Linked DNA regions of Homo sapiens. The protein of the gene in region 3 purifies or fractionates together with the protein of the main gene of each other region. This does not show direct contact. Each region holds a gene or a part of one and is shown on either strand. Other genes may lie near its edges. The genes, in order: POC5, SLC7A11 and CEP128.

What was found.
Region 1: the proteins of CEP128 (region 3) and POC5 purify together in Homo sapiens (co-immunoprecipitation; one large-scale study listed by IntAct). This does not show direct contact.
Region 2: the proteins of CEP128 (region 3) and SLC7A11 fractionate together in Homo sapiens (co-fractionation; one large-scale study listed by BioGRID). This does not show direct contact.

The regions. Positions count from the first base shown.
Region 1 is NC_000005.10:75,686,285-75,689,941, reverse strand, and holds part of POC5 (centrosomal protein POC5), read left to right. Parts: intron 1-776; coding exon 777-930; intron 931-2,613; coding exon of another isoform or gene 2,614-2,732; exon of another isoform or gene 2,733-2,994; intron 2,995-3,657. UniProt on the Homo sapiens protein: Essential for the assembly of the distal half of centrioles, required for centriole elongation. Acts as a negative regulator of centriole elongation.
Region 2 is NC_000004.12:138,179,747-138,183,403, reverse strand, and holds part of SLC7A11 (cystine/glutamate transporter), read left to right. Parts: intron 1-98; coding exon 99-202; intron 203-1,010; coding exon 1,011-1,107; intron 1,108-2,613; coding exon 2,614-2,763; intron 2,764-3,657. UniProt on the Homo sapiens protein: Heterodimer with SLC3A2, that functions as an antiporter by mediating the exchange of extracellular anionic L-cystine and intracellular L-glutamate across the cellular plasma membrane.
Region 3 is NC_000014.9:80,931,712-80,935,368, reverse strand, and holds part of CEP128 (centrosomal protein of 128 kDa), read left to right. Parts: intron 1-3,657.

The DNA.
Region 1 (3,657 bases), on a different chromosome or scaffold from region 3:
GCACTCCAACCTAGGCAACAAGAGCAGAAATCCATCTCAAAAAAGAAAAAAAGAAATTGAAATTATTTTTTCCCATTGACTTTTAATAATAAAATTAACATTGTTTTCATGGGAAAACATTTGGAATTGAAATGAAATAAAATCCATTCTAAAGAATGCAATAGGCCTCTTGAAGTTAAATATTAAAATGAAAAAATAACTCATTACAGCATTAAATTGTTAAGATTAAAAATAAATCCATAATACAAATAATTTTCTGCAGTTCACTACGACATGCAAAAAATGCAGTCCCCTGAGGTTTGGCCTATGGGAAAGTGTGTTGTACCTAGGGTCACTCTGCACTTCAAATACTGAAGGTAACATTTACATTATAAAAATTCTGTTAATATTGCAGGCATGTAGTTTATTTTATTTTTTTCTGAAAGGGCTGTCTGTGGCTCTTAATGTATTTTGTTTAACATCCTACATAAAAGTTTTACAGTAAAAAATGGTGTATCTTTTTGTGAAATGAAAATACATCAGCAATATTCAATGGGACTGGATAAAATTCCCCTTGTTTGAACCTTGATTTTAAGGTTAGGAATGAAAGCATTTTGTTGATGGAGATAATAGAGGTAAGAGGTACCTTTTAAAATAAATTGCACATAGCAGAAGAGGTAAGTGACAAACTTTTTAATATTTCACATGAGAATAATCTCAAAGTATATATCTATTTTTTTGACAGTATTCTTCTTTGTATCTCAAATTGTTTTGCTTTTTAAACATTCTTATTTTAGTTATCTGGAGCTTTGGAAAATGCAAAAGCTGAGATTCAAAGAATGCAACATGAAAAAGAGCACTTTGAAGATTCCATGAAAAAAGCTTTCATGAGGGGTGTATGTGCATTAAATCTTGAAGCCATGACTATATTTCAAAACAGAAATGATGCAGGTTAGTATTTCATTAAAGTTTCTCTGCCTAATTTCAAAAAAAGATTTGAGGAGATTTTGGTGATTGGTATGGTCTACAGTACAAATAATCTGCAGTAGGTATGTTTCATCCAGGTGCTGCTATTCTTAATTCTATGGTGTCATATCCAGACTTAAATCTGCCATGAAAATGAGCTCAGTCATGGTTACTTATGGTATCTTAGATCTGATCAAGTACACTGTCACTCCTAAGTATTTAAGCTAAATGTTGAAAATAATATTTTAATGTATAGCATTATTTTAAATCTCTTTTAACTAAGAATTTTAATGCCTTTTTAAGTACAAAACTTCTAATTTTGTCTTTTCTTAAGTAGCCAAATATTTTGGACTATTTTGGTAAGTATTTGTTATCTAGTCATGGTTTCTCATTTTAGAAATTCCTAATCTTCCTGTTTATGAAAGGCCTCAACTAAGCTCATTGCAGCAAACATAAATATAGACCTATCTATAGAAGTAATTTTATTTTTTTTAAAAATCCACATATTGTCTGACATAAGAGTGGTTTGTGTAGTAGTTTTGTCAGCATGGCGTAGAAAAGCCCATAACTAGAATCCTTTGCCACCAATTTACCCAGGGGCCTGTTTTCCTCATTCGGCCTTAGATTTCTTCTCTGAGCGAAGGAGATAATATAAACCTTCCTTACCTGCTTCCTAGGGGCTTCTTGTGGGATGCAGTAAAACATATCTGAAAACACTTTAAAAGACAAAATGCACTTTAACGTGTAAGATGATAGTCATGATGTAATTATTAATAGTTTTAATTCAAGTCAACGTCTCAAGATTTTGTAAATGATTAACATGATTTCAATCCAATGAATAACTTCTCTGTGCTTGTGATGCCCTTATTTTAAAACATCAACAAACATTTATTATTTAAAGCATGCATATTGTGGATAGGAGTAAGTTTAGGCAAATTGCTTTCTATCTGAAGTGGTTGTGGTTTGTGGGCCATATTTAATTTAGAAACTGAGAATCATGGAATCTCAAGGCTGAATAGTTTATTTTGGTAATACCTAGGTGAGTACTTGATTTTTCCAATAAATGGTCTTTTATTTGAGTATCAGGGTTGAAAACAAACTCACCACCTTCAATGATAGAATAGTCTGTTTCAGTTCTAAGTATCAGCAAGTTGTGTGTCACAAATTGAGAAATTTAATTGTTTACTTGGGAGAAATATGAGTTTCACAAGTAAAGTGACAAATTCCTATTAGAACTTCTTACATTAAATTACAAGAAACCTGTTTCTTATAACCTACTTAAAAAGATTTTGAATTGACTTAGGAGTATTTCCCACCTTAATACATTTACCATCTTAAAATGTAAATTGAAATGCAACTGTGTCTCCTAAAGGCCAATATCCATAAGAGGATTTGAAGAAAATGTCTTCTGCTAATTACACAACATGATTTCTTTTGCTCCTGTTACTTTTGAAACAATCGATGAGAAAGATGACAAGAATGGTAAAGCATGCATTAGCAATAATGTTGGTAGAGCTACCAAAGGCAAAAAAGTTCAGTATAATTCAGTGGATCTGCTTTGTGATATTTAGGTTTTATGACATTTTAATGACACCTATTTTTTTTAGTTCTCATAAGAAAAAAAAATTACTTTTGGCCCCCTTCTATTAAAACAACTGTTTTTTATAGGCCAGGCGCGGTCGCTCACACCTGTAATCCCAGCACTTTGGGAGGCCGAGGTGAGTGGATCACGAGGTCAGGAGATCGAGACGATCCTGGCTAACATGGTGAAATCCCGTCTCTACTAAAAATACAAAAAATTAGCCGGGCGTGGTGGCAGGCACCTGTAGTCCCAGCTACTCAGGAGGCTGAGGCAGAAGAATGGCGTGAACCCAGGAGGCAGAGGTTGCAGTGAGCTGAGATCATGCCACTGCACTTCAGCCTGGGCGACAGAGCGAGACTATCTCACAAAAAAAAAAATTGTTTTTTATAATGCAGTTTTTAATAATGTAAAGTTCCTAATGCATCTGTCTTGTTAGAGCAAAATAAATATTTGGTTTTTTATTTGTACCGATTCTTTGCTGTCTGTAATTTGCAGTACCTCTCATGTTGTGCAGTATCTTAAATCTTACAAATTAGAGGTTTTTATGAAGAAGTTAGAACATGACAAAAAGTCCTTAAAATTATATCTGCCAATTTTACTGTGCCAATTAGGCACAGTAAAAAAAAATACTTGACAAGTGAAAAATTTATTCCAGCTAAAATGAGATTAATTATTAAACTTAAGAGTTATCTGATATCAGCCTATATTAGCAAGAGTTGATCACCTGCCTCTCTTCCCTGACCTTCATACTGTTTCTACATCTCCTAATGTCTGCCACCATCTAAAGATAGACACTCAGAATCTCTACCAAAACAAGTTAAAACTCAGTGTGTGTTTTGTTTTCAAATTAAAAGTATTTTATATTGAATTAGTCCCTTTCATCAGAGGAGTTCAAAGGATCTAGGTAGGCACTGTAATCATTGTTAAACTTCTTAAATAAGCTAACTAACTAATACTCTGCAAATTTTCTATACAGATAGTCTAAGGAAAGGACTTATGCAGAGGCCCAAATTTCTGGAGGGAAAGAGAACTACATAGAAAACCATTTAAACATACAACTTACATAATGCCCTCTGTTCAGATGTTCTGAAACAGCTCATTGACTGAATTTCTAAACCCTCACCACACTG
Region 2 (3,657 bases), on a different chromosome or scaffold from region 3:
GGCTAATAGAAAGTCATAGAGCAAGTTTGGCCTAAATTGTTTCATTTTATTCCACTTTCTGGCAAGGCATTAATTTGCTTCGTTCTTTCTTTCACTAGACCTTTTCTGAGCGGCTACTGGGAAATTTCTCATTAGCAGTTCCGATCTTTGTTGCCCTCTCCTGCTTTGGCTCCATGAACGGTGGTGTGTTTGCTGTCTCCAGGTGAGTGAGTTCATGTATTTCCAGAAACACATTTCTGTTTTTGAGATTGGATGTGATAAGGATAACTTTAAAAAGAAAAGAAATAGTGCCTCCAAACCTGTTGTTTTTAAAGGGACATGCAAGATTGAAATATTGGTCCAAGTATCAACAGCACGTTTTATTCTGTCCATTAGAGGGCACTGCTTGCCTATTAATAGCTTATTTGGAAGACGGACATGTGGCTTTTTTAAAAATAGTATTTCCACAGTCTAACAATGGCATTTTATTTCTGGTGATATAATTTTCTGTTTCTCTGAAGATGCCAAGAAAAAAGTAAAGTAAGAGACATCAGAAATCACCACCCCTACCATCAGTATTTCCTTTGTTTAGTTTGATGCAATAGTCTTTTTGTTTTAATATACGATTAAAAGCCAATCAGATAAATGTGAATGCTACATATAGGTGTGTGTACCTGTGGATGTGCATGTGTGTGTGTTTGTTGAATTGGATTGACAACACACATATAATACTAGGAATCTAGAACTAGATTTCCCATCAGCTATTTATATGTAGAGAGAGCTATGCTGAGTCAGATATTGCTATTCTTTCTCTTCAAAGAATAATATAATGTTGGCAGATTTTGTAAAATCCAAATTTAGATTTCCTATGATATTTCTCCACCTTATTTGAAAAGTGAACTTAGGCAATCACCTAAGGAATACCTGACCATTTGGTATGAAAAGATGCACGTTTTCTCTGGGATTTTTGGATTTTCCCTTTGAAATGATCAATCATACAGTCAACTCCACCCACATTTCTCTCCCATCAGGTTATTCTATGTTGCGTCTCGAGAGGGTCACCTTCCAGAAATCCTCTCCATGATTCATGTCCGCAAGCACACTCCTCTACCAGCTGTTATTGTTTTGGTAATGCATATTAACAAGTATATCTAGATATAACCTTGAATAATAGGTTAGCAAAAAGGAATTCCAACCAGACATTAGATAGTATTTTACTTTCTCATTCATTGCTAATGTATGTCATGGTGGAGTTTGGGAGGCAGGATATCTTCCATCTCTTCCCTTTACTCCATGTTTCTGATGCCTATTTTTTTTGATGCTTTGGGGCAAAAATCATCATCACCTCACTTTCATCTTTGCAGAAATGTGTAAGGTCTAAGGAAAATGATTGGCTTGGCTCCTCTCATTGACATAGCACCTCACAGAAAAGAATGTAGAGTATTAAGTCCCAATGACTTAAGGAAAGTAGAGCAAAAAGCTACAGTCCAAAAAGTACCCAGATGTATCATCTAGGCACCTTATAATGAAATGCACACAAAATTATTGAAACAATTGATAAAATCCTAGACAGTGCCATGATTCATTTGAGACATTTGAGAGCAAGTGTCTTTTATCCTGCAGGATAAAAATAAAAGCACCACGAGGTAAATTTGAGTTGTAAAATTCTTTCTGCAGAGCAAAGTGTGAAATGTGAGCTACAAAAGACTGTATGAGGTGTAAAAGTCCTCAAATACCCATTGGCAATGTTATATTCATTTTTACTGATGATTTTGTAACATTTCTCTCAACTGGAGTCTGTTGTCAGGAGCACCACAGAATGCACTGAACATTTTTTTTTCATGCATTTAATTTGTTTCAGAACGTTTCCTTGAAATTTCTTTTTAAAGTATGTGTACTCTCTGTGCAGAATCTGGATGTTAACGTCACTTGTGGGAACAGAATGTATTATTCCGTGAAGAGGGCTTTCATTTTAAGCCTCTGCTATCAGTCATGCTGTCCTTGGCATGTGCAGCTGCAGAGACTTGCTAAGCTGATCTCTGCGCTTCATTCTTCTCCGTGGTCTTGAGGGTCACACACGGCAAGCACACCAGGAGAGTAAATGTGGAGGAAAAAAGGTCAATGTTTTGCAATCAAGAGCCAACAGAATCACCTATGAGTGTCTGTGTTTCCTGGGTGTGGATAGCCAAGAGCTCACCGGAGAGCATTTGCAGAGCTTTCTGTAAATCTTCCAATTGGGCCTCTTTTACTGTTCATTATCGGTTATTTACTAATCATCTCAATCTTTGAGTCTTTCAATTTTGAGTCATTGAGTAACCTTTCTTTTACTCTTTGAAGACATACTATCTTCTCTCAAATGCAAAAGGAACTAAAAACACAACACAACATTCATATAGAATTCCACTTGAATAAAGTATAATGGCCATATCACTCTCATACTGTTACTGGTGTGTAAATGGATTATGACAACAGAATATAGAAAAGAGATTAGTCAAATCCAAGTTTTAACTATGATGATAATTTATCGGTATAAATAATTATTTGAAAAAGGTCGTAATGCATAGTGAGGTTTTTGTTGTTAATCATCTGTGTTTTCACTGAATTCACCAAGCTTGCTTCCCTTTCCCCCCTCAGCACCCTTTGACAATGATAATGCTCTTCTCTGGAGACCTCGACAGTCTTTTGAATTTCCTCAGTTTTGCCAGGTGGCTTTTTATTGGGCTGGCAGTTGCTGGGCTGATTTATCTTCGATACAAATGCCCAGATATGCATCGTCCTTTCAAGGTAACCTCAGCAATCTTGATGGGTTTACATAAATCTCTCTCCTAATACCTAGTCCTCCCTTTGTCATAACTTGCTGATGGGGAGGTTGGGCTGGGGGCAGCATCTGTGGAATAAAAATGTTTAACTCTTGCAGGCAGTGCTTTCCTGTTGGATTTATTTTAAGTTGGAAAAAAAACAGTGGATCCAATTTTTTATGTGATGGGCTTGAACTTTGTATGTCAAATTTTTGAAAAATGACTGTATGAATGAATGTTTGGTATGTTGATTTTTCATGAATGTGTTCAATGACCTGATATACTCAAAGTATGGGCTACTTCTGTCTGTCTTTATGCTAGAGTTGTGGACAGCCATGGTGAGGAGGAGTAAGGGAGATACTTTGTTAATGCCAATTCCAAAAAGGAATTTGCCTTTACAAAATAGGCATTTTAAGTACTTAAATGTTGTGACTTGTTACATTGCTCTTTCTCTATATTATACACTCCAAAAAGAATAGAAATGTAAAATATACAGGGAAAGAGAAGATCTACAAATTTACCACTTGATACCCATTTACCATAAGTAAGCATCTCCCTTTTGGAGGACTGGAGAAAAAGCTTGTCATCTTCTTCAGACTTGACTCATGGATTGATTTGACCTCACGATTTATTTGTTTTTAAGAAATGGCATAGATAAGGTTGTCAGTCATGTTGTCAGGATTTGTTTCTAGTAATATTCATTGCCTAATGCTGGTGGCATCTTTATTAGCGGTTGAATAGGAGTTGGCTTGTTTTATTCCTGTCAGTTATTATTGTGGATCTCAACAGAAAAATCAATATGCACTGAAAGACTTTAACATGTAACAAGCAGCCGGTGCTCTTGACTCCACATTAAAGTGGGTTCTAATCATAATTATCA
Region 3 (3,657 bases):
ATGCTGGCCAGGCTGGTCTTGAACTCCTGACCTCAAGTGATCCACCCACCTTGGCCTCCAAAAGTGCTGGGATTATAGGCATGAGCCACTGTGCCCAGCCAAGCACTTTATTCTTATCAGCTTATTTTGCTTTTAGGGAAGAGTACCTTTACTCATTGGTATACCTGTTTTTCATTTGTTTGTTTGTTTTTGTTTTTTGCTTTCTCACCACTGCCATTTACATGTAACAAGTGTACTGATTAAAAAGTTGGGTTTCGGAAATAGTCTTCTTGCCTGGATTTGAATCCTGGCTCTGCCACTTAAGTTACTTTGCTCCTTTAAGCCTTAGTTCTGTTTTCTGTAAAATGGGGATGATAATAATAATGTTATGAGGATCAAATGAGAGAGCATACATAAAGCACTTAGTACAGAAATTAGTCCATAGGAAACTGTAAATCAATAGCTATTATTATTTCAATAAAGTTGAACATTATTATGCCTTTGTATAAATGTAAGCAAGTAATATACCAGTTATAGTCTCATAATTTTACAGAAAAAAAATTAAAACAAATATTCTTTTTTGTCTTGGTTTATATATGTTTCCAGTTATGGGGTCTCCTATTTATTTAGAAGGTTGCTTTAAGATTATGGTTTGAATCCAGGCTTTTCTAGCTACTTAACTACTGGGAGCGTTAGTAGTTCTTCATTTGCAAAAAAGGGACTACTTTGTTCATTTAAGAAGTAAATATTGAATGTGCCGGACACTCAGACACTATGCTGGGGCCTGGGAATAGATGAACAAGAGCTAGTATATGCCCTCAGGGAGGTTAGAAATCCTGCCTTGTAAGATTGGCCTGAGGTTAAGCCAAGCTTTGCAGAGATACTTTACTGTATGCAAAGTATCTGTCATACCTAGGTGCTCAGTAAATGGTGGTTCTCGCGTTTGTACCTCTGATGTTCTGATTTCCAGCTATGTGCTCCAATCGTTAAATCCAGTATGTTTCTACTTTATCGATGTTTTAAAAAACATTTCCTGTTGACCTTTAATTTTAAGGTCTGCTCAATAAACTTTTGCCAAAGGATGGTCTTTGAGTTCTTAGACAAGAAATCATTATCTTCTTCCTGACCCTTAAAATTGGCTGTGCCATAGTTTGCTGAACCATCTGGTACTGTAAAGCAGTTTTAGGATGAAGGCCATTATTTGTGTAACTTATTAAGACAGGAGGCTTGAAAGCTGGGAATTAACTGCAGAGGGTGGGGGAAGTGTGTCACAGTGTTTGCAGGAAAGATGTGTAGCACATCCTCAGCTGGTGGTTGCATAGGACTCTCCACAGTAAGTGACTTGCTTGCATGGATCCTAATGGTAGGTCGGGCTTGTCTGAAGTCTGCCATCTTATTTCTTGTATATCGGACCTCCCTGGCATCAGAGTCTCAAATATTTTGCAATCTAAGGCTTATTTCCCACACATAAATATTCCTTTCTAGCTACTAATCTCTTTCTTCACATATGCAGACTTCCTAAAAGAATGATTTATACACAGTGCTTCTGCTTTTTCACCTCCTATTTACTCCACAACCTGGCATCGTCCTCACCTAAGCATTTTACTGAGACTGCTTTTGATACAGTCACTAGCACTTCCAAAGGATACTTTCTATTCCTTTTCCTACTTGACGTATTTGTTGGATTTGTCCCTCAGAGTTCACTCAGCATTTGCCCCTAAACAGATGAGACAGATGTCCCATAGTAATTTTAACAGGGAAAGCTTAACATACAGCAGAGGTTGATAAGCCATATCCCATGGGCTAAATTTAGCTTACCACAGGTCAAATCAAGCTACCCCATTCATTTATAATTGTCTGTGCTTTTGTGCTACAGCTGGCAGAGGCTCACAGTTGGGCAGAGAAAAAAAATTTGCTGACTCCTGATATAATTAACTATAAGGGGATTATCTGTAAAAGGACAGAGATGACTCTAAAGAATCCCCTGGGCTGACAGACAGTGCCCAAAGGAGATATAAACTTAGAGGGGGCTCTCTGCAAGGCTGGGATTCCTACCTTGTTGGAGGTGTGGCTATAGCTCCCTGAATGGTGGAGAGACTTACTGAGTTACTGGGGCCATAGCTGATCCACAGTTGCTGGGGAAGGAGAGGACACTGTTCCTAATTAAAGGCGGAGTGACGCTGGAAGGCAGGGAACCACACCACGAATGATGGGCAGGAAACACCTCTCCAGGATGCTGGTAGGGTGAAGCTGGGGGATTGACTGTGAGGTTGTCTGTCAGATTCAGTAAGAATCTGAGTAGGGGGTGGGGCTACTGAAACTTGATGGGAAGCTGCCCAATGTGGGTACTGCTGAAACTTGATGGAGTTGAGTACCACTGGATATCCTCACACAGGATGCTGAAATGAAAATGCAACAAATGGAAAACATGGAACCAGAAAGAGAAGCGCCTTCCTTCTGCAGTGTCCTTTTAAAAAATCATTATTATTATTATTATTATTTGGTTTCAATAGCTTTAGGGCAGGGGTCCCCAACCTTTTTGGCACCAGAGGCACTTTTCATGGAGGACAATTTTTTCACAGACTGGGAGGCAGAGAGAAGGATGGTTTTGGGATGATTCAAGTGCATTGCATTTATTGTGTACTTTATTTCTGTTATTATTACACTGTAATATATAAAGAAATAATTATGCAACTCACCATAGAGTCAGTGGGAGCCCTGAGCTTTTTTTTCCTGCAACTAGACAGTCCCGTCTTGGGGTCATGGGAGACAGTGACACCCAAAGTGTGTTGCTTACGTCCATTCTACTCTGTAGTCTCATTTTTGTTGCTGTCACTGCAGAAAAACCTGCTTCACAAAGATAAGATGTTGGAAATGGAAGCAGGCTTTTTGGTGCACAAGGCAATCTCAGGATATTTTGCCTTGACTTAAATCCAGAACATATAGAGGTTTGAAGTTGTCTCAGACATACTTTTAAGGCCAGAGTCATTTGCAATCTCAGGAAGTTGATCCTCTTCTAGCATGGACAAAGTTGATTCACCTGGTTTATTTACAAGTGGGTTGCGGAACCATTTCTTCCCAATTTGGGGATCTTTTATGGTTGAGAAGTATGTTGGTCCATTCTCATGCTGCTATGAAGAAATACCCGAGACTGGGTAATTTATAAAGGAAAGAGGTTTAATTGACCCATAGTTCCGCATGGCTGCGGAGGCCTCAGGAAACCTACAATCGTGGTGGAAGGGATGCAAACACATCCTTCTTCACATGGCATCAGGAGAGAGAAGTGCCAGGTGAAGGAGGAAAAGCCCCTTATAAAACCATCAGATCTTGTGAGAACTCACTACTATCATGAGAACAGCATGGGGGTAACTGCCCCTATGAGTCAATTACCTCCCACCAGTCTCTCCCACGACACATGGGGATTACGAGAACTACAATTCAAGATGAGATTTGGGTGGAGACACAGCCAGACTATATTAGGAAGTAATACTCAAACTCCTTTGAAAGCTGAGATAGATGATCATACACCAGCTGGGAGAAAGAAGGCCCTGGCTCAGTCTCTTTCAAAATCTCTGCTAATATTTGAAACATGTCAAAAATCCCAATGTTCACTGGTTGCCCCCATAATTCTAGTTTTCTCTGAATGCATCCACTTTATCTGCTGACTTGAACACAGTT